Linked DNA regions of Homo sapiens. Changing the gene in region 3 together with the main gene of any one other region gives a genetic interaction. Each region holds a gene or a part of one and is shown on either strand. Other genes may lie near its edges.

What was found.
Region 1: changes in FBXW7 (region 3) and RAB4B are lethal when combined (synthetic lethality), as found in Homo sapiens cells (one study listed by BioGRID).
Region 2: changes in FBXW7 (region 3) and RFWD3 are lethal when combined (synthetic lethality), as found in Homo sapiens cells (one study listed by BioGRID).
Region 4: changes in FBXW7 (region 3) and EFHC1 are lethal when combined (synthetic lethality), as found in Homo sapiens cells (one study listed by BioGRID).

What each region holds. Positions count from the first base shown.
Region 1 is NC_000019.10:40,781,230-40,788,256, reverse strand, and holds part of RAB4B (ras-related protein Rab-4B), read right to left. Parts: intron 4,480-7,027; coding exon 4,417-4,479; intron 4,337-4,416; coding exon 4,182-4,336; intron 1,593-4,181; coding exon 1,497-1,592; intron 1,410-1,496; coding exon 1,294-1,409; 3' UTR 1,279-1,293; intron 1-1,278. UniProt on the Homo sapiens protein: The small GTPases Rab are key regulators of intracellular membrane trafficking, from the formation of transport vesicles to their fusion with membranes.
Region 2 is NC_000016.10:74,656,878-74,663,904, forward strand, and holds part of RFWD3 (E3 ubiquitin-protein ligase RFWD3), read right to left. Parts: exon of another isoform or gene 5,079-7,027; intron 4,577-5,078; exon of another isoform or gene 4,575-4,576; 5' UTR 4,573-4,574; coding exon 4,055-4,572; intron 1-4,054. UniProt on the Homo sapiens protein: E3 ubiquitin-protein ligase required for the repair of DNA interstrand cross-links (ICL) in response to DNA damage. Plays a key role in RPA-mediated DNA damage signaling and repair.
Region 3 is NC_000004.12:152,323,093-152,330,119, reverse strand, and holds part of FBXW7 (F-box/WD repeat-containing protein 7), read left to right. Parts: intron 1-334; coding exon 335-448; intron 449-1,730; coding exon 1,731-1,912; intron 1,913-3,888; coding exon 3,889-4,114; intron 4,115-5,725; coding exon 5,726-5,936; intron 5,937-6,970; coding exon 6,971-7,027. UniProt on the Homo sapiens protein: Substrate recognition component of a SCF (SKP1-CUL1-F-box protein) E3 ubiquitin-protein ligase complex which mediates the ubiquitination and subsequent proteasomal degradation of target proteins.
Region 4 is NC_000006.12:52,437,330-52,444,356, reverse strand, and holds part of EFHC1 (EF-hand domain-containing protein 1), read right to left. Parts: intron 6,054-7,027; coding exon 5,766-6,053; intron 1-5,765. UniProt on the Homo sapiens protein: Microtubule inner protein (MIP) part of the dynein-decorated doublet microtubules (DMTs) in cilia axoneme, which is required for motile cilia beating.

The DNA.
Region 1 (7,027 bases), on a different chromosome or scaffold from region 3:
CCAAAGTGCTGGGATTACAGGTGTGAGCCACTGCGCCCAGTCGACTTACATCTCTTGTTTATCACCTGTCTCCCCCAAAGAGAATGTCAGCACCATGAGGATGGGAGTCTGTTGTACTCCCTGCCATATCCCCAGTGCCTTGAGCAGGGCCTGGCACACAGCAGGCGCTCAATAAATCGCTGGAGAACTATGAATGGGAGGGTCAAGGTCTAGGGCAGGAAGCTGGCCTGGGGCTGCAGGTGGATTCCCTGTGGCCTGGCAGATGTCTCTTTTTTTTTTTTTTTTTTTTTTTTTTGAGACAGAGTCTTGCTCTGTCGCCCAGGCTGGAATGCAGTGGCTGAATCTTGGCTCACTGCACCCTCAGCTTCCTGGGTTCAAGTGATTCTCCTGCCTCAGTCTCCCAAGTAGCTGGGACTATAGGCATGTACCACCATGCCTGGCTAATTTTTGTATTTTTAGTAGAGGAGGGGTTTCACCACGTTGGCCAGGCTGGTCTAGAACTCCTGACCTTATGTATACCCCCCATCAAATGCAACCCCTCTGCCTGTGTCCCCTCATCCCACCTGACCCCTCTGCCTCTGCCTGCCCTATCCCACCCTGATCCCTCTGCCTGTGCCCTGACCCTGGCCCTGACCCCCCTGGGCCTCTCCCCTGCTGGCTCTGACCCCTCTCCCCCAGTGCCTCCCCATCTGGTCCTGACCTTTCTTTCTTTTTTTTTTTTGAGACAAAGTCTTGCTCTTGTCACCCAGGCTGGAGTGCAATGGTGTGATCTCAGCTCACTGCAACCTCCACCTCCCAGGTTCAAGTGATTCTCCTGCCTCAACTTCCCGAGTAGCTGGGATTACAGGCACCTGCCACCACGCCCAGCTAATTTTTGTATGTTTAGTAGAGAGGGGGCTTCACCATGTTGGCCAGGCTGGTCTCGAACTCCTGACCTCAGGTCATCCGCCCGCCTCGGCCTTCCAAAGTACAGGGATTACAGGCATAAGCCACCGAGCCAGGCCTGGCCCTGACCTTTCTGAGCTGTCACTGTCTGGAAGTGGGTCTGTCTCCCCACCCCCACCCAATGAACTGCCTCCGCCCGCCTCGGACTCCCAAAGTGCTAAGATTACAGGCGTGAGCCACTGCGCCCAGCCAGATGCCTCCTTTAGCTTGTGTGTTTTTGCATCTTTCTCTCACTCTGTTTCTCTTGTCATCACATGTTCAGTGTCTATCTCCACACCATCTCCCCCATGCCCAAGAGGCCGCCCTGCCTCCCTAAAGCCCCCAGTGTCCCACCTGGCTCCACAGAGCTCAGCAGCCACACGGCTGAGGGGCCACGGCCTGGGCACTCCGAGGCTGCCGAAGCTGGCGGAGGGACGCATCCCCGTACTGAATGCCAGAGCCCATCCTCTCCGGGTCTAGCTCGCCTGTGGGGAAGGGGAGAGGTCAGCATTGGTTGCCTGGAGACCCCCGGGCCTGCCCTTCGCTCCCACTCGGGCCGGTCGGGGCCTCACCTGAGTCAATCTTGTTGAGGATAGTGCGGGCACACTTGAGGAACGCCTCCTCCACGTTCTCGCCTGTGAGAGCGCTGGTCTCCAGGAACATCAGCTCTGCAGGGGCACACACTCTGAGGTCAGGGCCCCAGTTAGTCCCCACCCTCCACTGAGCTCTCACCTGCTGACTCTCATCCTGTTCCTCCAATGTTCCATCCCCCCTTACCCTCACCTCAGGCCTCTGCGCATGCCATTTCCCTGCCACTAATGTCCGCTTCCCGATATGCCCACCCAGCTCTTCCTTCAGAGCTCAGCTCACACAGCTCCTCCTCCAAGAAGTCCTCCCTGACTTCCTGGGCTGAGTCAGGTACCGACTTAGGGCTCCCACAGCTTCTTGTGGCCCCCTATCCTGGCCCTGACCCCACTGCTTGTGCTTCCTCATCCTGGCCCCAACCCTCTGCCTGGGTCCCCATCCCACCCCTGACCCTTCTGCCTGGGCCTGCCCCATTCCTTTCCTGACCCTTCTGCCTGGACCTGCCCCATTCCACCCCTGACCCTTCTGCCTAGGCCTGCCCCATTCCACCCCTGAGCCCTCTGCCCATGCTCCCCCATCCCATGCAACCGCTCTGCCTGTGCCTCCCAAACTTGGCCTTGACCCCTCTACCTGGGCCCCCCATCCCACCCCAACCCCTCTGCCCTTGCCCCCCATCCCATGTAACTCCTCTGCCTGTGTCCCCTCATCCCAACTGACCCCTCTGCCTCTGCCTGCCCTATCCCAGCCCTGACCCCTCTGCCTGTGTTCTCCATCCCACCCCGATCCCTCTGCCTGCCCCCCCAGTACTGGCCCTGACCCTCTGGGGCTCTCCCCTGCTGGCTCTGACCCCTGTCTCCCGGTGCTTCACCATCAAGCCCTGACCTTCCTGAGGTGTCACTGTCTGGAAGTGGGTCTGTCCTTCCACCCTCACCCACTGAACTGTGAGCTCCATGAAGGTTGGGCCTAGGGCTGTCTCCAACACTGTGTCTCTAGCACCATCTAGGACAGGAACAGGCCAACCAGAGTCTACCCATCAGCAGCATGACAAGGCCCCACAGTCAGAAAATCAGAGCTGAATTCACACCCACACCTCTCTGATGGCAAAACCTCCTTTAAACCTGGAGGTTGCAAAACAGGGGAACACAGGCAGATCTCAAGCCACCAGATGTGGGTGGTTTGGCCAACACAATGTTTTCAAATGAGTTTATACTTGCAAACCTTTTTTGTTTTTTTCTTTGAGACAAAGTCTCTCTCTGTCCCCCAGGCTGGAGTGCAGTGGTGTGATTGCAGATCACTGCAGCCTCGAACTTCTGGGCACAAGTGATCCTCCTGCCTCAACCTCCTGAGTACCCCAGACCACAGGCACATACCACCACACCCAGGCTTTTTTTTTTTTTTTTTTTTTGTAGAGGCAGGGTCTCACTCTGTTACACAGGCTGGTCTAAAACTCCTGATCTCAAGTGATGCTCCTACCTTGGCCTCCCAAAATGCTGGGATTACAGGTGTGAGCCATTGTGGTTGGCCCTTGCAAACCTTTTGGTGTGGGTTGTCAGTATGCTGCACTCCCCTTAACACCAGTACCTGTTACTCAAGGATCTACCCCATCCCATCTCCTGTATTCAAAAATGTGCCTTTCACCGGGCGCAGTGTCTCACGCCTGTAATCCCAGTACTTTGGGAGGCCGAGGCAGTCGGATCACAAGGTCAGGAGTTCGAGATCAGCCTGGCCAATATGGTGAAACCCCGTCTCTACTAAAAATATAAAAATTAGCCAGGCGTTGTGGCGCACACCTGTAGTCCCAGCTACTCGGGAGGCTGAGGCAGAAGTTGCAGTGAGCCGAGATTGCGCCACTATACTCCAGCCTGGGCAACAGAACAAGACTCCGTCTCAGAAAAAAAAAAAAAAAAGTGCCTTTCACCTAGGGCCATCTAGGGTTGCAATCTCTACATTAAACCAATACCCAGGAAGGTGCGGTAGGAGGAAAAAATAAATAAAATAATTAATTTAAAAAACCAATACCCTGTGCGGCCTCCTGACGGTAGGCGAAACCTTAGCGGCCAACATTAATCTAGCACCCACTCTGTGGCGGGTGCTAAGGACTTTCCACAATCTCCCTTAATCATCACAGCACACTGTGGGGCAGAAACACTGTGATCCCACTTTCCAGATGAAGAAACTGAGAACCAGTGTAATCACATAGCTCACTGATGGCAACACTTAGTTTTGTTGTTGTTTTGTTGTTGTTGTTGTTTTTGGAGACAGTGTCTTGCTCTGTCTCCCAGACTGGAGTACAATGGCGTGATCACAGCTCACTGCAGTCTTAAACTCTCAGGCTCAGGTGATCCTCCTGCCTCAGCCTCCACTGTAGCTGGGACTACAGCCATGAGCCACCACACCCAGCTAATTTTTTAAATTTTTTATAGAGATAGGATCTCACTGTGTTGTCCAGGCTGGTCTCAAACTCCTGGGCTCAAGCAGTCCTCCCACCTTGGCCTCCCAAACTGCTGGGATTACAGGTGTGAGCCACTACACCCAGCCAACACTCAAATTTGAACCCAGACTTCTGAACCTCCACGTTCCCCTGCTGGGTACAGCCACTGAGAGCCAGTAAACCCATGGTCCCTGTGGACTGTCCACCCCCACCACCACCTGGTCCACGACACAGCCCTCACCATTCTCCTGGGCAAAGCGGGAGGCCTCCAGGAAAGTGACCTCCCGCTCAGGGTCCAGGTCCTTCTTGTTGCCACAGAGGATGACCACGATGTTGGGGCTGGCCAGGGTGCGGGCATCCGTCAGCCAGGCAGCCAGTGAGTTGTATGTCTCCCGGCTGTGGAGAAGGGAGAAGGGAGGGAGGCAGTGCAGGAGAGGAACCACCCATGCCCTACCCCACCCACCCCGGGCACCCACCTGGTGATGTCGTACACCAGCAGGGCTCCAGCCGCCCCTCGGTAATAACTCCGCGTCACTGACCTGTGGGGCCAGGGGGACCCAGTCACCCCCAAGGCTGGGGTCTGCCCCGAGAATGCCCCCCTCTACAGAGACAGACTGGTGGTTCGGAGGCCCCCCCCTTCACTGCTGGCCCATCCCCCAAAACCTGGCCTTGGTCGGGTCACCATGCAATTCCTCTCTCTTCTTGCATCCTTGAAGTCCCTCTCTCTTCGCCTCTCTCAGCTTCTATCTCACTTAGCTGGCCAGCTGTCTCTATTTATGAATCTCCATTTTTGTCTCTCCCTGTGTCCCTATCTTTCCATTCGTCTGTTTTTCTCTCTGTGTCTCTTTCATGTGTGTCTTATTTTTTATTTTTTTGATGGTCTTGCTCTGTAGCCCAGGCTGGAGTGCAGTGGTACGATCTTGGCTCACTGCATCCTCGACCTCCTAGGCTCAGTATCCCAACGGAGAGATCCTCCCACCTCAGCCTATGTAGTGTCTGGGACTACAAGTGTGCACCACCACACCTGGCTAATTTCTTAATATTTTTTGTAAAGATGGGGCTTTGCTAGGTTGCCGAGGCTGGTCTCCAACTCCTGGGCTCAAGTGATTCTCCTGCCTTAACCTATGTGTCTTTTTCCTTTTTCTTTTTTTTTTTTTTTTTTTTTTTTTGAGTAGGAATCTCACTCTTGTCTCCCAGGCTGGGGTGCAGTGGCATGATCTCGGCTCACTGCAACCACTGCAACCTCCACCTCCCGGGTTCAAGTGATTCTCCCACCTCAGCCTCTCGAGTAGCCAGGATTACAGATGCACGCCACCACATCAGGCTAATTTTTGTATTTTTAGTAGAGATGGGGTTGGCCATGTTGGCCAGTCTGATCTCGAACCCCTGAGCTCAAGTGATCCGCCCACCTTGGCCTCCCAAAGTGTTGGGATTACAGGCGTGAGCCACTGTGCCCGGCCCTACATGTCTTTTATTGATTGATTGATTGATTGATTGACTGATTGAGATGGAGTTTTGCTCTGTCGCCCAGGCTGAAGTGCAGTGGCGTGATCTTGGCTCACTGCAACCTTTGCCCCCCGGATGCAAGTGATTCTCCTGCCTCAGCCTCCCAAGTAGCTGGGATTACAGGCATGCACCACCACGCCCGGCTAATTTTTGTATTTTTAGTAGAGATGGGGTTTCGCCATGTTGGCCAGTGTGGTATTGAACTCCTGACCTCAAGTGATCTGCCCGCCTAGGCCTCCCAAAGTGCTGGGATTACAGGCGTGAGCCACCGTGCCTGGCCCTATTTAATTCCCTATTTCTGTCTTTTTTGTTTGTTTGTTTCATCTCTGTGGCTCTCTCATGCTTACCTTTGCCTTCCCATGCATTTGTGCATTCATTCATTCAACATTTTCTGAGCAAATCTCCCCTTTGCCTGGCCCTGCCCAAGCACTATACAACATCTGCTTATCCTTCTCCTGCTGTGTCAGGTGGAGTCTCCTTCCCAGTGTAGCCAATTCTGCATTCTCTGTCTCACCAGTCTGGGTCCTTCTGGAACTCATGCAATCATTCCACAGCATTTACTAAGCACTCACCGTAAACCTAGCCCATGCTACACACCTGTCTATCCTTCAGCCCCTCTCTCTGCCTTTGGGCTCTGTGCACCTCAGGCAGTTAATCCATACGCAAGAATTAACTCAGCAGCTACTAGATGCTGCCATAGATCACACTTTTCCGTGGACTGAATTCCCTCTATTTCTCTCCCTGCTCTCTGTTTCTCCGACTCTCCTAAGGTTTTTTTTTTTTTTTTTTTGAAACGGAGCCTAGCTCTGTCGCCCAGGCTGGAGTGCAGTGGCGCGATCTGGGCTCACTGCAAGCTCCGCCTTCTGGGTTCATGCCATTCTCCTGCCTCAGCCTCCCAAGTAGCTGGGACTTCCAGCGTCTGCCACCACACCCAGCTAATTTTTTGTATTTTTAGTAGAGACGGGGTTTCACCATGTTAGCCAGGATGGTCTCGATCTCCTGACCTCGTGATCCGCCCGCCTCGGCCTCCCAAAATGCTGGAATTACAGGCATGAGCCACCACGCCCGGCCTCTCCTAAGGTTTCTATGTGTCTATCAACTTTTCTGCTCTGCAGGCATTTCCTGAAGACCTACAGTGTGTTGAGCCCTACGCATTTCTCTCTCTCTCTCTCCCACAACACGTCCATTTCTCCATCTCTCTTTTGGAAAGATGGGATTTCACAATGTTGCCCAGGCTGGTCTCAAACTCCTGGACTCAAGCGGTTCTCCTGCCTTGGCGTGTGTGTCTTCAGTTCCCTATTTCTCACTGTCTCTCTTTCTGTTCCATCTCTGTGGCTCTCATGCTCACCCTTGCCTTCCCGTAAATTCGTGCATTCATTCATTCAACGTCCAACTACACCTGTCTGACTCACCCTGTCTCCCTCTCTGCCTCTGACCTCTGTTTCTCTGTGTCTCCTCACCTCCCTTATTTATTTATTTATTTATTTATTTATTTATTCATTTATTTATTTATTTATTTATTCAGAGACAGAGTCTCGCTCTGTCACCCCGGCTGGGGTGCAGTGGTGCGATCTTGACTCA
Region 2 (7,027 bases), on a different chromosome or scaffold from region 3:
CTCAAGACTTCAGTTAAGAAAGTAACTGCAGATGTGCTAGAAACAGCAAGAGAACTAGACTTAGAAGATGTGACTGAATTGATCTCATTCCTAGATTTTCCTTTCCTTCTTATTGGTTAGTTTATTGCTTATCCCACTGAATATCCATTACCTCAGGCAGGCCCCAGGGAAAATGATTTAGGCTTTTCACACTCTGCATTGCTCAGAGTCAAGAGTAGTCTTGCAAATGGGGTTTTCCAGAGAACCACCAACAGGTCATATAAAGATAATTCTCTGGGAATGAGGCTTTGAAGGTGCTCCAATCCCTCTGGTGCCTGCCAGGCTGTTGGTTTTTACTATGATTACAGGCAGATGCTTTTCACAACTATCAAGGAGCTGGAGAAGGTGACAAGAATAAGGAATGCCATAGAGCTCAATGAGATTCGGCTGTTTTTCTTTAATAATCACTCCCTGGATTGCTATAAGCATTTGGTCAGTTTCCTGAATTATGAAAAAGTTGATCCTGACAAATTCTGCCAGTTGTTTCACTACTTCCATGGAGATAATTCTCTGTGGTCCTTACTCTGCCATTTTCACTGACATCACCCAGGTTTTCTTTTTCTTTTTTTTTTTTTTTGAGACGGAGTCTCGCTCTGCGGCCCAGGCTGGAGTGTAGTGGCGCAATCTCGGCTCACTGCAACATCCACCTCCCGGGTTCAAGCGATTCTCCTGCCTCAGTCTCCTGAGCAGCTGGGATTATGGGCACCCGCCACCACACCCGACTAATTTTTGTATTTTTAGTAGACAGGGTTTCACCATGTTGGCCAGGCTGGTCTCGAACTCGTGACCTCAGGTGATTCGCCTGCCTCAGCCTCCCAAAATGCTGCGATTACAGGTGTGAGCCACTGCGCCTAGCCAGGTTTTCTTTTTAGACAGTGCTAAGCAAGTTTACCAACTCCATTTCTTGAGATTCTAAGTGAACAGCAGCTATAGCTACCATGAGACTAAACACATAAGAAAAGCATTTCATAAGAAGATTTAATCAAATACATACTAGAGTTAGGGTGTTGACACGTATATCAATAGAATTCTACATAGAACCCAGTAAAAAAGTGATAGACGATTAAAAAAAATCACTCTTTAATATTGCTTTTATGTAGCAAAGAATTTCCAAAGTCAGGCAAGAACACAGGAAAGGGGAACTGTGAAAACCAACAGGAAGCAGTGCTAGGGTTTCTCTTTGGGAGCACAGATTTAGAACCCAAGAAATTCTCCTCCTTCCCTGCACTTACCAACTTTGAATTTTGCTCCTTCCCTACTCTCTGTAGTCCTAGACTCCGTATGCTCCAGGAAAACAATATTGTGATCTGTGTTATTCACCAATATATCTAGGGCAAAGTTTAGTCTCTCACACAGAGGAGTGTTATCAATATTTGATGAATGAGTGATGACCCCCACTGCCAGAATGAAACCGCCCCAAACAAATCAGAAAGGAGTTTGTGACCTCAGCTAAGCCTGTTGGGAAGAATAAGCTCACTACTTAGCTTTCCATAGCTTTGGCTTCTTGGCTGACTGTGAGTCAAAAGCTGTTCACCTTGGCCCAGGCTTTCAACACCTGGCCCAGGGACAGTCTGTCAGATGAGTAAATGTCAAACACCACACTGAGAAATTCATCTCAAGAAATTCAGAAGTTATAAGCGATTAGTCCTGGGAAAGGTCATACTTCAGGGAAAAAAGTTTTAATCACATTTACCTGGCTCCAGAACTGATGTAATTTCCACTGAACTGCACACTTCCTGACCGTTTAGGTTATTCCCTTTGTGGAGACAGATTATGGCTGCCAAATAGCTTGACTGACATCTTTCAACATTTAAATTCTGTATAACTCATTCCCTGAGCAGATTCTATAATTTTTTTTTTTTTTTTTTGAGACAGAGAGTCACTCTTGTCACCCAGGCTGGATTACAGTGACAAGATCTTGGCTCACTGCAAGCTCCGCCTCCTAGGTTCAAGGAATTCTCATGCCTTAACCTCCCAAGTAGCTGGGACCACAGGTGTGTGCCACCACGCCCGGCTAATTTTTTGTATTTTTAGTAGAGATGGGGTTTCACCATGTTGGCCTCGAACTCCTGGCCTAAAGGGATCCGCCTGCCTTGGCCGCTCAAAGTTCTGAGATTACAGGCGTGAGCCACTATGCCCAGCCACATCAAGCAATTTTCTCACTAGAGTTTGGCTTCTGTTTGGCTCTCTAGTGGTTCTGTTTTTCTTTGTAAGTTGGCATCTGGTTTATAAGTGTCACCCTTAAGTTGGTTAATACAAGTCACTGTGCTTGACCAAGAGGAATCCACTCTGCGTCCCCCAACAAGAATGAGTGCATGGATAAGCAAGACTGAGGACTTGCAAGAGGCCTCCTGACAGTCAGCCAGCTCCTGGAAACACCACTCACAACTCTCAACCATGGAAAGTTAGCCCATTTACTTTGGGAGGGTCCCCAAATTACACCATAAGGTGCCTTCACCTATAACACAAATGTATGAAATCTTACCCTGCCTTTATAACGTGAGTAATGACATCTTAAAACAACAGACTATAGCCAAGCCTGCTGGTGCACGCCTGCAATCCCAGCTACTTAGGAGGCTGAGGCACAAGAATCGCTTGAACCCGGGAGCCAGAGGTCCTGGTGAGCTGATACTGCGCCACTGCACTCCAGCCTGAGTGACAGAGCAAGACTCTTGTCTTAAAAACAAAAAAAAAACCCAGAGTAATATGCATTTGCAACTCTTGTCAACACAGAACTAGGCATCTGTCATCCTTGATGGGCACTACAGACACTGGAGCCACAGTCATGGCAAGCCCCAACATTAAAATCAGCAGGATCCATGAAAAAGAATGCTGAATCCAGATACAGAAGGCACAATTCCAATTCCAGCCTTATCACAACCAAATCACAAATTATCCCATCAGCTTCCTCATTTGTAAAACATGGGTAATAGATGACCTAGCTACCACTTTTTAGTATCATCTCAATATTTTCACAGTGTTAGAAAACATCGGCATGGTTGCGTATGCCTGTAGTCCCAGTTAATCATCAAGAGGCTGAGGTAGGAAGATCGCCTAAGCCTGGGGAGGTCGAGGCTGCAGTGAGCTGTGATTGCACCACTGCACTCCAGCCTGGGGAGCACAGTGAGACCCTGTCTCAAAAATAACAATAATAAAAACAAGAAGAAAGAGAAAACAAAGGGATTTCGTCGAAGCTTCCTCCATCTGCCTATGTAGAAAACAGGGCAGATCCAGGCTCCAATATCAGTGCTAACTCCTCTATTCTATAGTTATGAGACCCTGAACAAAGCCCTCTCTGAGCGGAGATCGCACCACTGCGCTCCAGCCTGGGCGACAGAGTGAGACTCCATCTCAAAACAAAACAAAACCAAAAACAGACAGGTTTAATTAGTTAGGTGTGGTGGCACGCGCCTGTAATGCCAGGTACTGGGGAAGCTGAGGCAGGAGAATCGCTTGAATCTGGGAGATGGAGGTTGCAGTGAGCAAAGATTGTGCCACGGGAATCCAGCCTGGACGACAGAGTGAGACGCTGTCTCAAAAACAAAAACAAAAAACCAAAAAACGGACAGGGTATAGGCAATTGTTATTCTTCATAATAACCCTGTCAAGACTTGACAGCTAAGCCCTTCAAGAGGCAAGTTCAAACCAAGACTATGAAAGAAAATTAATTAATTGTGCCCCCAGGTGGAATGCCAGTGAATAATGAATTTGGGTGAGTAGAGACTTGCAAGTGAAGAAAGAATTTTTGGTGTACAAGACACAATCTGAACAACAGCCAATCTCTACAGAGATTGCCAACAAACTACCACCTAGTTTTCAAGGCACAACAGTTTAACTTATCCCTTCATTACTTTGTGAAGTAAGGCAAGCACTTTTATTTCCACCTATGAGGAACTGGGGGTCAGAAGTTACCTGACTTGCCAAAAGTCACACTGTCAGTCCTTGAATGGCAGAGCCTCAGTTTCATAATTTCTAGTACAGCAATGATCACAGACTTATCCATATATTTATTTACCTGGCACTGTCTGTCCTCTGAGACCCTCCGGCTCTTGCCCTCCGTGAAGCAGATACCCTCCTTCTTGTTCTCATTGGCCCTACACTGTGGTTTGAAGATGAAGGTCTCAGGAATTCCAGCATGCCATGAAGTCTCTGCAGTCCGCTGATGAAGTTGGTCATTGAATGCAACGAAGATGCTGGGATGGTGTGATTACCATCAGATCCCTGCCTATGTTGTTCTGAAGTTCTTGGATTGATGTTCTCCACAGTGTCTTCTCCCAAGACCTCCACTTCTGTCAGGTCAACAGACAGTTGCGGAGCAGGCTGGAGCAGGGGTGGTGTCGCTTGGCTGCTGATCACCTCAGCAGGAGCTGGCTGGAGGATGGATGGTACCCCCTGGCTGCTGACCACATCAGCAGGAACAGGCTGGAGGAGGGCTGGTCCCCCTTGGCTGCTGGCCATGCCAGCAGGAGCTGGCTGTTGTTCGGCATGATTTAACTGCACCTGAACATCATATTCCATTGCTTCATGAGCCATCACTAGAGAAACAGTATTTGTAAAAAGTATTAATAAAATAGATAAAACATGCTATGTAGGTGACAGAATCATATTTAATCTTTCTGATTTTATGTTTAATATCATTCTTAGCAAGACTGAGAAGCTTCAAGAGAAGATTTTAACTACTTAAGTCAGAAGTGTTTGGTAATGGACTTTCCTCTCTATAACAAGCATTTATAACCAGTTTTCCGGTTTGCCCTTAGAAAACATGAAGTCCTGTGATCATAGTAGTATCTTCCAAAATAGAAAGATCTATAAACCAAGGAGATTAAACTACTGGGTCTAAAAGTAATCTCTCAGACACTTTGCAGTTCTCTCAAGCTGAATATGGACATTCACCAAAATCAAATGCATATAATGCAGTATCTAATTTTAGCAGGCAATATTAATCTTTCACAGCATCAACAGTTACAAGGGATAAATAGAGAAAGGACATTTTTTACACTTGCAAAATTAACTGTTACTAACTCAAAATGGAAACTTACCTAATGTTTCCAAAAAGGCTGAGCAAACTTTATCCTATCCCTTTCATTATTTTTGTTTTCCATCTCTAATTCCATCATGTTAGCGTATTCAACAAATATTTATTAAGCACCTATGTTCTTTTCATGTTTCCTATCTTTAATTCCATTGTATCAGTTTGAAAACTACCACCTAGTTTTTAAACTAAAAAAAAAAATTTTTTTTTGTTATATAGATGAAGGCTTCCTATGTTGCCCAAACTGGTCTTGAATGCCTGGCCTTACCTCCTCATGCATCAGGACAACAGGACTGAGCCACTGTGCCTCCCTACCACCTAGTTTTTAAAGTACATCAGTATAACTTATCCCCTTAATTACTTTGTGAAGTAAGGCACGTGCTTTTATTTTCATCTGACTTATGAGGAAATGGGGGTTCAACTAATAGTTATTAAGCACCTGTTATGCAGACAAGACACCCTAGAGGCAAAAACAGATAAGACCCCATGTATCAGAGTTTAGATTCTAGCAAGTAAGATGTCAATAAACAAATACATGAAAAAAATTATAGATTATGATGTTTGGGGTTGAGGAGACAAAGAGGACCAACTAAGACACAATTGTGAGGGAAGTACTCTTTTAAAGAGTGAAAATTGGGCTGAGGCATGAAGGATTAAAAGCAGCTGGCTATGCAAAGAGCCAAGAAGAGTCTCAGAAGGAAATCAGTGCATAGGTCCCTGATGAGCATGGGTTTCACTGATGAACAGGACACCATTATTAAAGGGCCTATGGGCCTTGGTAAGGAGTTTCTTCTATGTTAGGAATGCACTGTAGGGGTGCAAGAGCATAAGCTAGGTGACCAGTGTAGAGGCTATTGTGGGAGTCCAGACCAGAGGTCAGAGAGACCTAGGCAAGAGTGGTAGCAGTGGAGATGAAAACAAACAGACAGCTTTAAGAATCTTCAGAATGGTCATGCTTCTTTTTTTTTTTTTTTGAGATGGAGTCTCGCTCTGTTGCCCAGGCTGGAGTGCAGTGGCGCGATCTCGGCTCACTGCAAGCTCCGCCTCCCGGGTTCACGCCATTCTCCTGCCTCAGCCTCCCGAGTAGCTGGGATTACAGGTGCCTGCCACCACGCCTGGCTAATTTTTTGTATTTTTAGTACAGCCGGGGTTTCACTGTGTTAGCCAGGATGGTCTCGATCCCCTGACCTGGTGATCTGCCAGCCTCAGCCTCCCAAAGTGCTCGGATTATAGGCATGAGCCACCGCGCCCGGCCAATACTCATGTTTCTTAAAATCATCAAAGCAGATTAAACCACCTGAGGAACAGAATGACAGAAGAGGGCTGAAGACTAAAGTCAGAGACACTACTGTTAAAAGTACAACAGAGTAAAAGAAGCCAGTTAAGGAAGATTATAAAGTAGGAGGAAACATGGGAATGTGGTGTCTTGGAAAAACAATGTTTCAAGGAAGGAACAATTGAGTGTCAAGTGCTACTGGGGGGAAGAACGGCCGCTAGATTTGGCAACATGAGGATGACAGGTGACCTAAAAAAGCAGTTTCCCTGAAGTGGTGGGGTCAGAGGCCAGACTGGTGCAGGCTGAATAAATGGAAGGAATTCTAATAAACATAGTGGACGAAGTACATATATGTATCTTTCTCTCTCCACTCCAGTCATTCCTAAAACCCACGAACATGACCCCCACAACCTGAGACATTTTTTTAAGAAAGGATAAATTAACCAGGACGACACAAATGCAAACAGGGTATGATATGCAAACCAGTTTTTTAAGGCCATAAAGGAGAAACTGATGATTGATGACTGCTTAGCAGAGCCAAAAGATAAAACTCAAAGCCTGCAAAGGGCACAGTGGTTGGGGTGAGGTGTGTTATTGAGAAGCAAGCTGATTCCCACTAAAGGGACTGTAAAAACCAGGTACCACAAAAGGCAATATTGAAAGATGGCGCTAAAAGAGAA
Region 3 (7,027 bases):
TCAAAGTTGTAAAAATTAGAGGCATATTCTTCTGGTTTGAACAGATGGAATAGATTATTGTCAAATACATTGGTGTTTGAACCATCTTTATGAGGTCTTGATGCAGTAAAACTTTAATAGTTGATGTTTTGAGTATAAATAATAGACTATGGAAACAATAAAATGTTTAATTCTGGATTCGTCAGCCAGGAAAAATAATGCTTTATATAAATTTAAATTCTAGAGATAGACTACAAATTACTGTTCCTGTTTATGCCTTCATTTTTCTCTTCACCAGTATTTTAAAGAACATAATTTAATTAACATATTTCTAATCTGCACATCTTTCTTATAGGTGCTGAAAGGACATGATGATCATGTGATCACATGCTTACAGTTTTGTGGTAACCGAATAGTTAGTGGTTCTGATGACAACACTTTAAAAGTTTGGTCAGCAGTCACAGGCAAAGTAAGTTTACTCTTCCTACACTTCACAAAGTCATAATTTTGTGTATATCATTGCAAGTAGCAACTGGAAAAAAGAAAACAATAATTCATTTTTGATTCTTAGTTATTTGGATAGCAAATATCAGAGCTCATAACTTAGCTTTTTTCCCCATATTTATGAAAGCCAATGGCATGAGGATAGTGATGCTTCTCATGATAGAGGTTTCATTAATTTTTTTTCATTTACATAGTTTGTCTATCTTTGTGACAGATACTTTAACATTTTCAAGGGTGCTTTATGTTTTTCTTGGCTCAATTTTTCCCCACTTTTATTTACTATCTAAGTTATACCTCATTACTTTGTAATGTTTTTCAAAAGTATGGTTGAGGGATATTTATTTTTCCTTATAAACTGCTTTGTTGATAACCTACCTGTAGTTTAGAACTTAATAAATCATGTTAATTTATACTTATCTCAAACCCTTGTGAGATGAGAGTGGACAAGGCATTTAAATGTTAAGTTTGAAGAAAAAGCCCAAGCAATCAGCTTGACTGTGTACCATATCATACCTTAATGATTCTCTAGTGAATATTTATTTTTATCTGTCCAGTAGAGAATATTTTCATGAATTAAGTAATTGCCACCTAAAAAATAACAGAAGAGAGTATGAAAACAAAAAAAAATCCATGTCTTTTAAAATGTCTTTTACCATGTTGCTTCTTGGCAAGTATCTTATAAATATTCCAAGTCAGATGTTAAAATTTTTTAAAGCAGCTTTATATTTCCATAGTGTAATATTAGTTTGGGATTTATTACAGGGCTTTAATGTCTGTCTTTACTTGTCTAGAAGTAGCTTCACTGGCTCCTAACTACTGCCCTGGGGCAGATTCAGATGAAATGTGGTATGTAGCCACACCCAATACTGTTGGCATACTTTCATTGAATCTATTCCCATGGAAGAAACCCAGTTGCAATTTCAGTATTATTTCATCAAAGAGGCCAGGCCAGAGCTATCATAACTGCTTTCATGTCGTGTTTCCTTTTTATTATATCATGTTTTATATCATATGTTTGCTTTCTACATACTACATACACAATTGCTTGTGCTTATATAAATTTATAATGCTTTTGAATAAACAAAACAATAAATAGTGATGGGATCATTTTATACGGATGTAATATTTTCTGAAGAGCCAAACAAATTAAATAAGTAACTTTACTCCAAATTTTAATGAGCTATTAAATTTTATTTAAATCACTTTTCCTTTCTACCCAAAAGTAATCATCTTAAGTGTTTTTCCAGTGTCTGAGAACATTAGTGGGACATACAGGTGGAGTATGGTCATCACAAATGAGAGACAACATCATCATTAGTGGATCTACAGATCGGACACTCAAAGTGTGGAATGCAGAGACTGGAGAATGTATACACACCTTATATGGGCATACTTCCACTGTGCGTTGTATGCATCTTCATGAAAAAAGGTAAGGGAAAATCTTGTCATGGTTGGGACTTCTTCCTCTATTATTGGTGAATTTGGGCCCTTTCTGTGTAGAGTTACTGAAATAGTGACAGTGTGCTCTTAAATTAGATTTAATTATTACACTTCAGATGTTTCTATTCTAGGAAAGCCATAGCGTTTTGTCTTAAAATTGGTGATTGTCTGTAAATTTCCTTTCTCATTTGCTAGTGTTGTCAGCTTCCTGTTTGAAACTCTCTACTCTCTAATCTCTAATCCTTTTTGTTGTTCTGTATCTTTGATGACTCATCATATTCAAGCAGAAATCATGTTTTCTCTCTCTTTTTTTGATATTCTTATTTCCGCAAGTGGGACAAATTCAGGCTTCAAGCGTCTGAGCCTTTTTAAATTACCTACCCACCTTACACCCACCCTATCTCTAAGTCTAGGCAAAAGCTGAGGCCTGTGGGTAATTTGTTCTCTCATTCTGAACTATTGTCACAGCTTTCTAACTTGGTTATCTTATGTTTTATACAGCTGACATATAGTCCTTTTATAATTATGATAGTGTCACTGCCCAGTTCTTAAGTCTTTTTGAGCCTACTGTTGACTAACGAATTAAGGAAGAAATCCTCGATCCAGTTTTCAAAATGGTTTCTGCCAAACTGGACTTTTTGACTTTCTCTTCTCAGTGCCTTTGCTGTTGCTTTTATCTCCTCCTGTAAAGCCCTCCTATTAAAATCCTATCTTTCTATTATCGTCATCATACCCCTGTTAAACAAGTGTGATTTCTACCTCATTTGTCAAAAAAGGTCTCTCTGAAAGGTCCTTACAGTGAATCCATGGCAGTCTTTACCTTTAATTCTGTCTATCGCATCTTCTTTATTAAGAACAATTACATTAAGCAGATTTCACACCAGATTTGTAATATGTGAAAAGGAGTACCTTTTCAATTGTCATTTACCTCTACTTTGAACAGTGTGCTATACTGTTAAAATTTGGGGGATGAGTATCAAGAGACCTTGTATTCCAGTTTCCATTATGTTCTCTCAACATTAGGTTCTCAATTAAAGGGTTCTCTCAACCCTTTAATTATCTACTTTTTTAAAATATGGAAACTGTGGTATTTCTTTATCTCTTCAGAATGACATAAGGATACCTGAGTTTTCAGCTTTGTTTTGTAATCCAAAAGTGATTACAGTATTTGTATATTGCTCTGGTTTTCAGAAGAGTATAGCGCTGATGTTGAACCAAATGTTTAAGGGATAGCCATTGTTTTTAAAGATGTACATATCTTTTAAAATCTTTATCTCTTAATATTTTTATAGCCTATTGCATATTTATAAATCTAATCATTAAAAGCATAAGCAGCCTGTGTTTGAGGACATGTCTAAAACTGGTTAATTTTTACTGGAATGTATAGTGTAAACACAAATCTGCAGCTGTTTAAATTCCAAATTCTGACTTGTTTTGTTGTATAAACTTTATTGAATTTTTTACCTAATCACAAGGGAATATATGCATTCATAATTGAAATTTTGGAAAATGGCAAAGAACATAAAGAAAATTTAAATTCTTTAAACCACTACCACCTAGAGTTCTCCCATTAACATTTTATACATATGCCCACATTAACATTTTATTTCTAAAATCAAAATCTTATTGTATATATTTAGAGGCAGCTTCTGCTGCTTTTTAAAAAATACAGTACAGTGGTTTTCAAACTCAGTCCCACAGAACCTTAAGGTGCTGAACCTAAGGTCCCCAGGTCAGGGAACCAAGCATGCAGCATTCTAGGCTTCCCAACTTCCCATTCCCTTATTATGTTTATATACCAAGGTTTTACATAGGATTTCTTTTGAAAATGGTTGTTGCTGTGTAAAAAAAAAAAAAAAAAAGCTAAAAAACCTTGACTAAATCTACCATGTTTTCTCATATTATTAAAAATTCTAAACGTGGGTTTTTTTGTTTTGTTTTGTTTTTCTGTTTCTCCCTCTGCAGAGTTGTTAGCGGTTCTCGAGATGCCACTCTTAGGGTTTGGGATATTGAGACAGGCCAGTGTTTACATGTTTTGATGGGTCATGTTGCAGCAGTCCGCTGTGTTCAATATGATGGCAGGAGGGTTGTTAGTGGAGCATATGATTTTATGGTAAAGGTGTGGGATCCAGAGACTGAAACCTGTCTACACACGTTGCAGGGGCATACTAATAGAGTCTATTCATTACAGGTAAGATCTCTTATCTCTCCCTTAAATGCTCTCCTGATGAATCATAAGGTTGTTTTACTCAGATAATCACTGTCAAATTGCTGATCCAGTACAGTCCAAAAAAGATTAATCAGATTATTCTGCTGTTTTTATATACGTTAAAATTGGCATGAAGAAAGTGTAAATTTCAAAATTATTTAAATGCTTTCAATTTTCTGTGATCTATTTCTCCTCTAAATACAAATATTTGTTTTGCAACCTGACACTTTGGGGCTCTAAGTTTTGCTATGTTAATTAATGGTTAAATAGTCTCATAGGAGAGTAACCTGGATTTTAAGAAACTCCTTTGCAGAAGATTAATATGGCCAAAAGCTGCCCCTTTGCTTTGATAGCTGAAAGTTGATGGACCATGTAATTGTGATTCCATCCCCATTCAAAGTGGAAATAGATCCTTTCTGCATAAAGCACTCTACTGTCCCAGGCCCACTGATTTGTAGTCATAAAGAAGTAAAGTTGACTAAACCGATTTCTTTTTTTTGGTTTATATTTCAAGCCCATATCCTTGAAAACATTGCCATATTTTGAGATCATTAACTAGATGAATAGGAAGTTTAGAATATGAATCTTGTTTTATTTCCAGAAAGGCAACATTTTTAATGTAAAAATATTTCCTATAGCTTATATAGTTTATTTACCAGTTATTACCCATTAATGTTCAGCAAATTAGTACATAATCTTAGTACTGTCAATTCTGTTCTTAGGATATTTGTTTCTTTGTCAAAGGGATATTGTCCATGTCATGAAATATTGACAATATGATAAAAATGTTTGCTAAATTAGAAAAGGTGATGAATTTGGAGGAAGGGGAATTGGCTGCACCTGTTTCTGATATGTTCAGAAGCTTAATGAATATAATATTCTAATTTAAATAAACTGTTTGATTGAGAAAAGAGGTAGCCACATTATTGTTTAGAAATGATAGACTGTTATTGACTTTTGGTGTAGCTGGGAAGCTGGAGAAGAGGTAGTATGTAGTTTGCTTTTGATTTCAAAATGCCACCTCTTCTGATTCCAGATACAATTATCTTTTGGCACATTTCCTAATTAGCATTAGGTTCTTATAAATGAAATTTTATTTTACACACAGTTTTTAATGGAACTTACTTTTGAACATCACGAAAGTTATCTCTAGCCCTTTTCATGCCTTAGGTGCTGATAAGCATTCCGTTTATCATAAGCTATGTCATTAGTCTCAGCTTCCTAGTGGGAAGTAAAACTCATAGCAATTCTCTCAGTCATCCATGATATATAGCTAGGTGGGGCCAGATGATTTGAAAATTAACATATTGTTCATTTTAGGTGCTTTGTTTTCATTTTAAGTTGTTTCTGCATCTAGTTTGAAGCTGCTTGGCATAAAGATGAGCCTTTCTGATAGAAGTGTGTGAGAACATACATTGTAGAGTTGCTTGATGGCATGCACTTTATCCTCATTGCCACTTTATCTTAGTACCTCATTTTGTTCCTGGCATTACCTGTTTCCCATCCTCTTCCCCCTTTCCTACTAGGATTAAGGTCAGTAATTGATAGGAAGAGTATCCATACTTCTATTCTAATAAACTGTGTCTTTTGTAGTTTGATGGTATCCATGTGGTGAGTGGATCTCTTGATACATCAATCCGTGTTTGGGATGTGGAGACAGGGAATTGCATTCACACGTTAACAGGGCACCAGTCGTTAACAAGTGGAATGGAACTCAAAGACAATATTCTTGTCTCTGGGAATGCAGATTCTACAGTTAAAATCTGGGATATCAAAACAGGACAGTGTTTACAAACATTGCAAGGTAAGTCTTACTCACCTTTCGTTTTGTTCATTAAAAATGAGATCATTATTCAAGAGAAATATGGAGCCTTAGCATCACAAAAAGAGTCAACCTCATACAGAATGGTTACTTCAGAAAAGTTTATGAATATTTTCACCCTGACTTACAGAACTAGTCTACTCTTGAGGAAATGTTTTAAACTGTGTTTTTAATATGTAATATAAAATTGTTTAATCACTTCCTGCATGTTCAATTGACTCTACTTAACCTTTAAGAACAGTGAGAAGAAAGATCTTGGCTATATCATAGAAGCAACGTACTCATTATATTTTTTGATTGACCATTGCATTTTGAATTTGTAGTCCAATTTTAAAGGGCTACCTTATTGAAAAAAACAACAGCATCCTTGATAGAAAATTTATTTGGCCTCCACTTAGTCACGTGCTTAACTGGAATGGAGAGGAATAATAGTGCCTACTAAAGTAGAGAAAGAAACAAGTGAAAATCACTAATATTAGATGAGGTACAGCAGTGCCTCATGATTAACTTTTTCTATTTGTTATAGCCCTTAGAAAGTGTTTTTTTCAGTGGGGCCATCTGATAGGCAACATTGCAGCTTTTTACTCATTGGTTTTGTCTCTCCTCAGAGTTTTGGAATAGTGACTGTTCAGCTTTGAGTGGTTCATGGTGGTGGGGTAATAGATCTCTTAGTGCTCATTTGTCCATCAGCAGAAGGTATGAAGTTGCACTATCTACATCCTCACCAAGGAATGCTGTCGTTCACACAGCCAGAAAATAAGATGTTTGTCTGGTAGCTAACCAAGCTTCTTGGAAGACAGACCTCTTGAAAGTTAATGTTTCAGTTACAAATCACTACCAGATTTTCTTACATCCATGCTGATCCTAAAATACTGAGGACATGGGTTTCTAAATATGTATCATTTCAAATGTTGCATTTATTGTATGTTCTAAAGTAGAAGTCTACAAATTATAATGTAACTAACTCATAGCCATTATTTCTAACCAGTAATTAAATTCTTTTGGTTTTTGTCTAGGTCCCAACAAGCATCAGAGTGCTGTGACCTGTTTACAGTTCAACAAGAACTTTGTAA
Region 4 (7,027 bases), on a different chromosome or scaffold from region 3:
AGGGATGCCCTCTCTCACCACTCCTATTCAACAGAGTGTTGGAAGTTCTGGCCAGGGCAATCAGGCAAGAGAAAGAAATAAAGGGTATTCAATTAGGAAAAGAGGAAGTCAAATTGTTCCTGTTTGCAGATGACATGATTGTATATTTAGAAAACCCTATCCTCTCAGCCCAAAATCTCCTTAAGCTGATAAGCAACTTCAGCAAAGTCTCAGGATACAAAATCAATGTGCGAAAATCACAAGCATTCTTATACACCAATAACAGACAAACAGAGAGCCAAATCATGAGTGAACTCCCATTCACAATTGCTTCAAAGAGAATAAAATGCCTAGGAATCCAACTTACAAGGGACATGAAGGACCTCTTCAAGGAGAACTACAAACCACTGCTCAATGAAATAAAAGAGGACACAAACAAATGGAAGAACATTCCATACTCATGGGTAGGAAGAATCAATATTGTGAAAATGGCCATACTGCACAAGGTAATTTATAGACTCAATGCCATCCCCATCAAGCTACCAATGACTTTCTTCACAGAATTGGAAAAAATTACTTTAAAGTTCATATGGAACCAAAAAAGAGTCTGCATTGCCAAGACAATCCTAAGCCAAAAGAACAAAGCTGGAGGCATCACGCTACCTGACTTCAAACTATAGTACAAGGCTACAGTAACCAAAACAACATGGTACTGGTACCAAAACAGAGATATAGACCAATGGAACAGAACAGAGCCCTCGGAAATAATACCACACATCTACAACCATCTGATCTTTGACAAACCTGAGAAAAACAAGCAATGGGGAAAGGATTCCCTATTTAATAAATGGTGCTGGGAAAACTGGCTAGCCATATGTAGAAAGCTGAAACTGGATCCCTTCCTTACACCTTATACAAAAATTAATTCAAGATGGATTAAAGACTTAAATGTTAGACCTAAAACCATAAACACCCTAGAAGAAAACCTAGGTAATACCATTCAGGACATAGGCATGGGCAAGGACTTCATGACTAAAACACCAAAAGCAATGGCAACAAAAGCCAAAATTGACCAATGGGATGTAATTAAACTAAAGAGCTTCTGCACAGCAAAATAAACTACCATCTGAGTGAACAGGCAACCTACAGAATGGGAGAAAATTTTTACAATCTACCCATCTGACAAAGGGCTAATATCCAGAATCTACAAAGAACTTAAACAAATTTACAAGAAAAAATAAAACAACCCCATCAAAAAGTGGGCGAAGGATATGAACAGACACTTCTCAAAAGAAGACATTTATGCAGCCAACAGATACGTGAAAAAATGCTCATCATCACTGGCCATCAGAGAAATGCAAATCAAAACCACACATCTCATGCCAGTTAGCATGGAGATCATTAAAAAGTCAGGAAACAACAGGTGCTGGAGAGGATGTGGAGAAATAGGAATGCTTTTACACTGTTGGTGGGAATGTAAACTAATTCAACCATTGTGGAAGACAGTGTGGTGATTCCTCAAGGATCCAGAACAAGAAATACCATATGACCCAGCCATCCCATTACTGGGCATATACCCAAAGGATTATAAATCATGCTGCTATAAAGTCACATGCACACATATGTTTATTGCGGCACTATTCACAATAGCAAAGACTTGGAACCAACCCAAATGTCCAACAATGATAGACTGGATTAAGAAAATGTGGCACATATACACCATGGAATACTATGCAGCCATAAAAAATGATGAGCTCATGTCCTTTGTAGGGACATGGATGAAGCTGGAAACCATCATTCTGAGCAAACTATCGCAAGGACAGAAAACCAAACACTGCATATTCTCACTCATAGGTGGGAATTGAACAATGAGAACACTTGGACACAGGGTGGGGAACATCACATACTGGGGCCTGTCATAGGGTGGGGGGTGTGGGGAGGGATACCACTAGGAGATATACCTAATTGAATGACAAATTAATGGGTACAGCACACCAACATGGCACATGTATACATATGCAACAAACCTGCACGTTGTGCGCATGTACCCCATAACTTAAAGTATAATAATAAAATAAATAAATAAATAAACTAGGTATTAAAGGAACACACCTCAAAATAATCAGAGCCATCTATGAAAAACCCACAGCCAACATTATATTGAACAGGGAAAAGCTGGAAGCATTCCTCTTGAAAACTGACACAAGAAAAGGATGCCCTCTTCCACAACTTCTATCCAAGACAATATTGGAAGTCTTGGCCAGAACAATCAGTCAAGAGAAAGAAATGAAGGACATCCAAGTAGGAAGAGAGAAAGTCAAACTATCCCTGTTTGGAGAAAACATGATTCTATATCTAGAAAACTCCAGAGCCTCATCCCAAAAACTCCTTAAGTTAATAAACAACTTCGGCAAAATTTTAGGACACAAAATCAACATACAAAAATCACTAGCACTCCTATACACCAACAACAGCCAAGCTGAGAGTAAAATCAGGAACACAATCCCATTTACAACTGTCACAAAAAGAATAAGATACCTAGGAATACAGCTAACCAGGGAGATGAAAGATCTCTACAATGAGAATTACAAAACACTGCTTAAGGAAATCAGAGATAACACAAGCAAATGAAAAAACATTACATGCTCATGGATACGAAAAATCAATATCTTTACAGTCACCATACTGCCCAAAGCAATGTACAGATTCAATGCTATTCCTATCAAATTGCCAGTGACACTCTTCACAGAACTAGAAAAAAATACTTTAAAATTCAATGGTACCCAAAAAGAGCCTGAATAGTCAAGGCAATTCTAAGCAAAAGAACAAAGCTGGAGGCATCATGTTACCTGCCTTCAAACTATACTACAGGGCTACAGTAACCAAAACAGTACAGTACTGGTACAAAAACAGACACATAGACCAATGGAATAGAATAGGGAGCTCAGAAATAAGGCTACACACCTATAATTATGTGATCTTCAACAAAGTTGACAAAAATAAGCAATGGGGAAAGGTGCTGGGATAACCTGCTAGCCATATGCTAGCCATATATCTTACACCAGATATAAAAATCAACTCAAGATAGATAAAAGACTTAAATGTAAAACCCAAAACTATAAACACCCTGGAAGACAACCAAGGCAACACTATTCTAAACATAGGAATGGGCAAAGATTTCATGACAAAGACACCAAAAGCAATCACAACAAAAGCAAAAATTGACAAATGGTATCTAATTAAACGTAAGAGCTTCCGCAGAGCAAAAGAAAGCATCAACAGAGTAAAAAGACTATCTAAAGAATGGGAAAGAAATATTTGCAAACTATGCATCTGACAAAGGTCCAATATGCACCATCTATAAGAAACTTTAATTTACAAGAAAAAAAGCAAAGAACCCCATTAAAAAGTGGGCAAAGGACATGAACAGACACTTCTCAAAAGAAGACATACACATGGCCAATAACCATATGAAAAAAAAGCTCAACATCACTATCATTAGAGAAATGCAAATCAAAACCACAATGAAATATCATCTCACACCAGTCAGAATGGCTATTATTAAAAAGTAAAAAAATAACAGGTGCTGTCAAGGTTGTGGAGAAAAAGAAATGTTTATACACTGGTGATGAGAGTATAAATTAGTTCAACCATTGTAGAAAGCAGTGTAGTGATTCCTAAAAGACCTGAAAACAGAACTACCATTTGACCTAGGAATCTCATTATTGGGTATATACCCAAAGGAATATAAATCATTCTGCCATAAAGACATACCCGCAAGTATGTTCATCGCAGCACTATTCATAATAGCAAAGACATGGAATCAACCTGAATGCCCATCAATGGTAAACTGGAAAAAGAAAATGTGATACATATACACATACATATACATATACATGAAGGTGCCAGATTTTTTGCATTTTTGTGTTTTTTGTTGGTGATTTTGCTGTTTAAAGGGTCCCAGTGCCTAGTGATGAAGTGCTATTTAGTGTTCCTAAGCACAAGAAGGCTGTAACACACCTCATGGAGAAAATGCATGTCTTAGATAAGCTTTGTTCAGACGTGAGTTATAGTGCTGTTGGGTGTGAGTTTAATGTTAATGAATCAACCGTATATATTAAATAAGGTGTCTTTAAACAGAAACATACATGAATCAAACTTATGTATTGATCAGTTGACAAAAATGTGGCCAGAGATTAGTGGGAACCTAACCCTGTATTTCCTCTAAGACTAGTGGTTCAGTATTCACTAATTCAGTGTTTGTGGTGACTTTATAGTCCTAATTACTGTCAATAATGAGAACCGACTATAAATAGATTAGGTCAAACGCTCAGTGATTAACTTGCAAATGTTCAAATTGCCCATAAAAACACAACTGTAAAAATAATTGTTATGAAAACACAACTGTAAAAATAATTGTTAATACATTTATGTTTAGATAACATTTTATCATTTCTCACTGTTGGTACAATTGTGAAACTGCCTATGATATATAAGACCTCAGACACCTAAAAAGCAAAGAGATAAAAATATGTTGGAACGGGAGAATATCTCAAAGATGGTCTAGCACCTCTACTTTTGAAGCTATTTTTCTCTATTGCTTTGGAATGGCACTGATGCCATGGCTCCTTTCTTTACTTCCTTCAGGCCTCTATTCATATGTCATCTTATCACTGAGGCATTCTCTGATCCGCCTCTATAAAGAGCCCCTCAACTTCCATTCCCTTTACTCAGCTTTATTTTCCTCCATTGCTGTTATCATCATCTGACATATAACCAATCTATTTATTTGCTATTGCTTATCTCCTCCAACAAGATTGGAACCTCTATAGGGGCAAGTACCTATAACATGCAAGGAAAGGAGAAATGGTGCACTATTAGCTTGTCATAGTCATCTGAAAAATATCAAGTACCTTCCTGAAAACATCTGGCACCTAGAACAGTGCATGGAACAAAGCAGGCATGCAAATAAATATCTGTTAAACAAACTACTAAATGAAAACAATAATGGATTCATAGGAGCTCAGTGCATGGTAAAAATTAGTCACATATGGCACTAGGTATCCTGGAATAGGGACATAAAATACTTCAGAAACTATATCTTTGCTGCTAGAAATATTTTTTTAACTAAGACAAATTTGGAATTGACTTCCTAATTCCTACACTTTGTAGTAAAGAAAGGCCACCTATATCCTCTATGCATGTAACTTTAATAAAAGTTTCCTTTGTATTAAAAAATCCAAACTTACGAAATAGAGGACTTTTTACATATAGAAGAGGTTTTTTCATTTAAAAATGGTTTCATTTCAGAAATTCTTTAGATGGTAAGCTTTCCTAGAATATAGCAAGTATCATTTACCAAAAATATATGAGCTACACAAAAAATTTTAGGCTCATATCTGCTAATAGAAGTAGTGCTATTTTTGTAAACTCACACTTAAGATAAAACGTTTAATCCCTCTTCCATACTTACATCCCAGCAGGGATGCTATTCCCCTACTCCCTGTTTGAACTGCCATTTTAACCTGGTTTCTTACCAAATTATTCAGCTATGATGAGAGTTTGATTTTGAGTGAATAAGTATTAATATCATTCTGAAAAAATTATGTTACTATTAGTGTTGGCACATATTAGCACATACACACATGCAAATACCTAGCCATTCATAATAATTCATGCAGGACAGATTACCAATGTCCTCCCCTTACCCTAATAAATGAAATGTATCCTTCTATAAATTAGAATGATGCCTCAGACCCCACAACTTTCAAAAATATATGCTATACCTGTGTGAATTGGTCACAGTCAACAACGCGGAAAGTTTTGCCATAAATTGTGATGTTTATTCCTCGATTTAGGTCTTTCCAATGGTAATGGTCACCCCGGTCATTCTTGGCTAGCCGCTGGCGTTTTATTAACTTGCCTTGAAGGATTCCAGAATTTTCTACAACAGGCTCTATGACAGACATGCTGTCATCTTCTAGATAATAGTAAATGTTCACCTGACGGATCCTATACTGTTCCTCAGTTGACATAGGAACATCTTCTTGGAAATAGGCATCAAATTTCAGTACCTATAACATACAAGGAAAGGAGAAATGGTGTACTATTAGCTTGTCATAGTCATCTGAAAAATATCAAGTACCTTCCTGAAAACAGAACCACACAGGGAGATTTTAACACTCATCACTTCTATCCTGTAAATCTTGATACTCTAAAACTACAGATACTGCAAACTATAGTCCATGGGACAAATCTAACCTGCCACCTGTTTTTTTTATGACCTGCAAGCTAAGAGTGGGTTTTACATATTTAAATGGTTTAAAAAATTTTAAAAAATGTTTCATAACACATGGAAATTATAAAAATTTAAATTTTCAATCCACAAATAATTATGTAAATAATTTACGCTTTTTTGTTAACAGCTGCTCTCCCATTACAAGGGAAGAGTTGAATAGTTGTGACAGAGATACACAGACTAAATTGTGTCCCCCTCATCCCCAAAATTCATATGTTGAACCCCTAACCCTCAATGTGACTATATTTGGAGACAGGATCCTTAGGAGGTAATTAAGGTTAAACCAGATCTTAAGGATAGAGGTATGCCACCTTTAAGTCTAATCCCATAGAACTGGTTGCCTTAGAAGAGAAGAAGAGAAAGAGAGTTACTTCCCTCCCCTAACTCCCACATGTACACACCAAGGTAAGGCCACATGAAGACATAGCAAGAAGACCGCTGTATGCAAGCCAGGAAGAGAGCCCTCACCAGAATTCAAACCAGCTGGCACCTTGATCTTGGACCTCCAACCTCCAGAACTGTGAGAAAATAAATTCTATTATTTAAACCACTCAATCTGTGGTATTTTGTTGTGGCAGACTACGCAGGCTAAAACCACTGCAATGGCCAAAATATACGCTAACTGCCCTTTACAGAAAAAGTTTGCTGACATCTGCTTTAAATACTCACAATGTGTATAAACTATTTATTGCATATGTTCCTTGGTGAGAATACATCTTAAAGGACTTAACTCTACTAGCTTCACCTCCA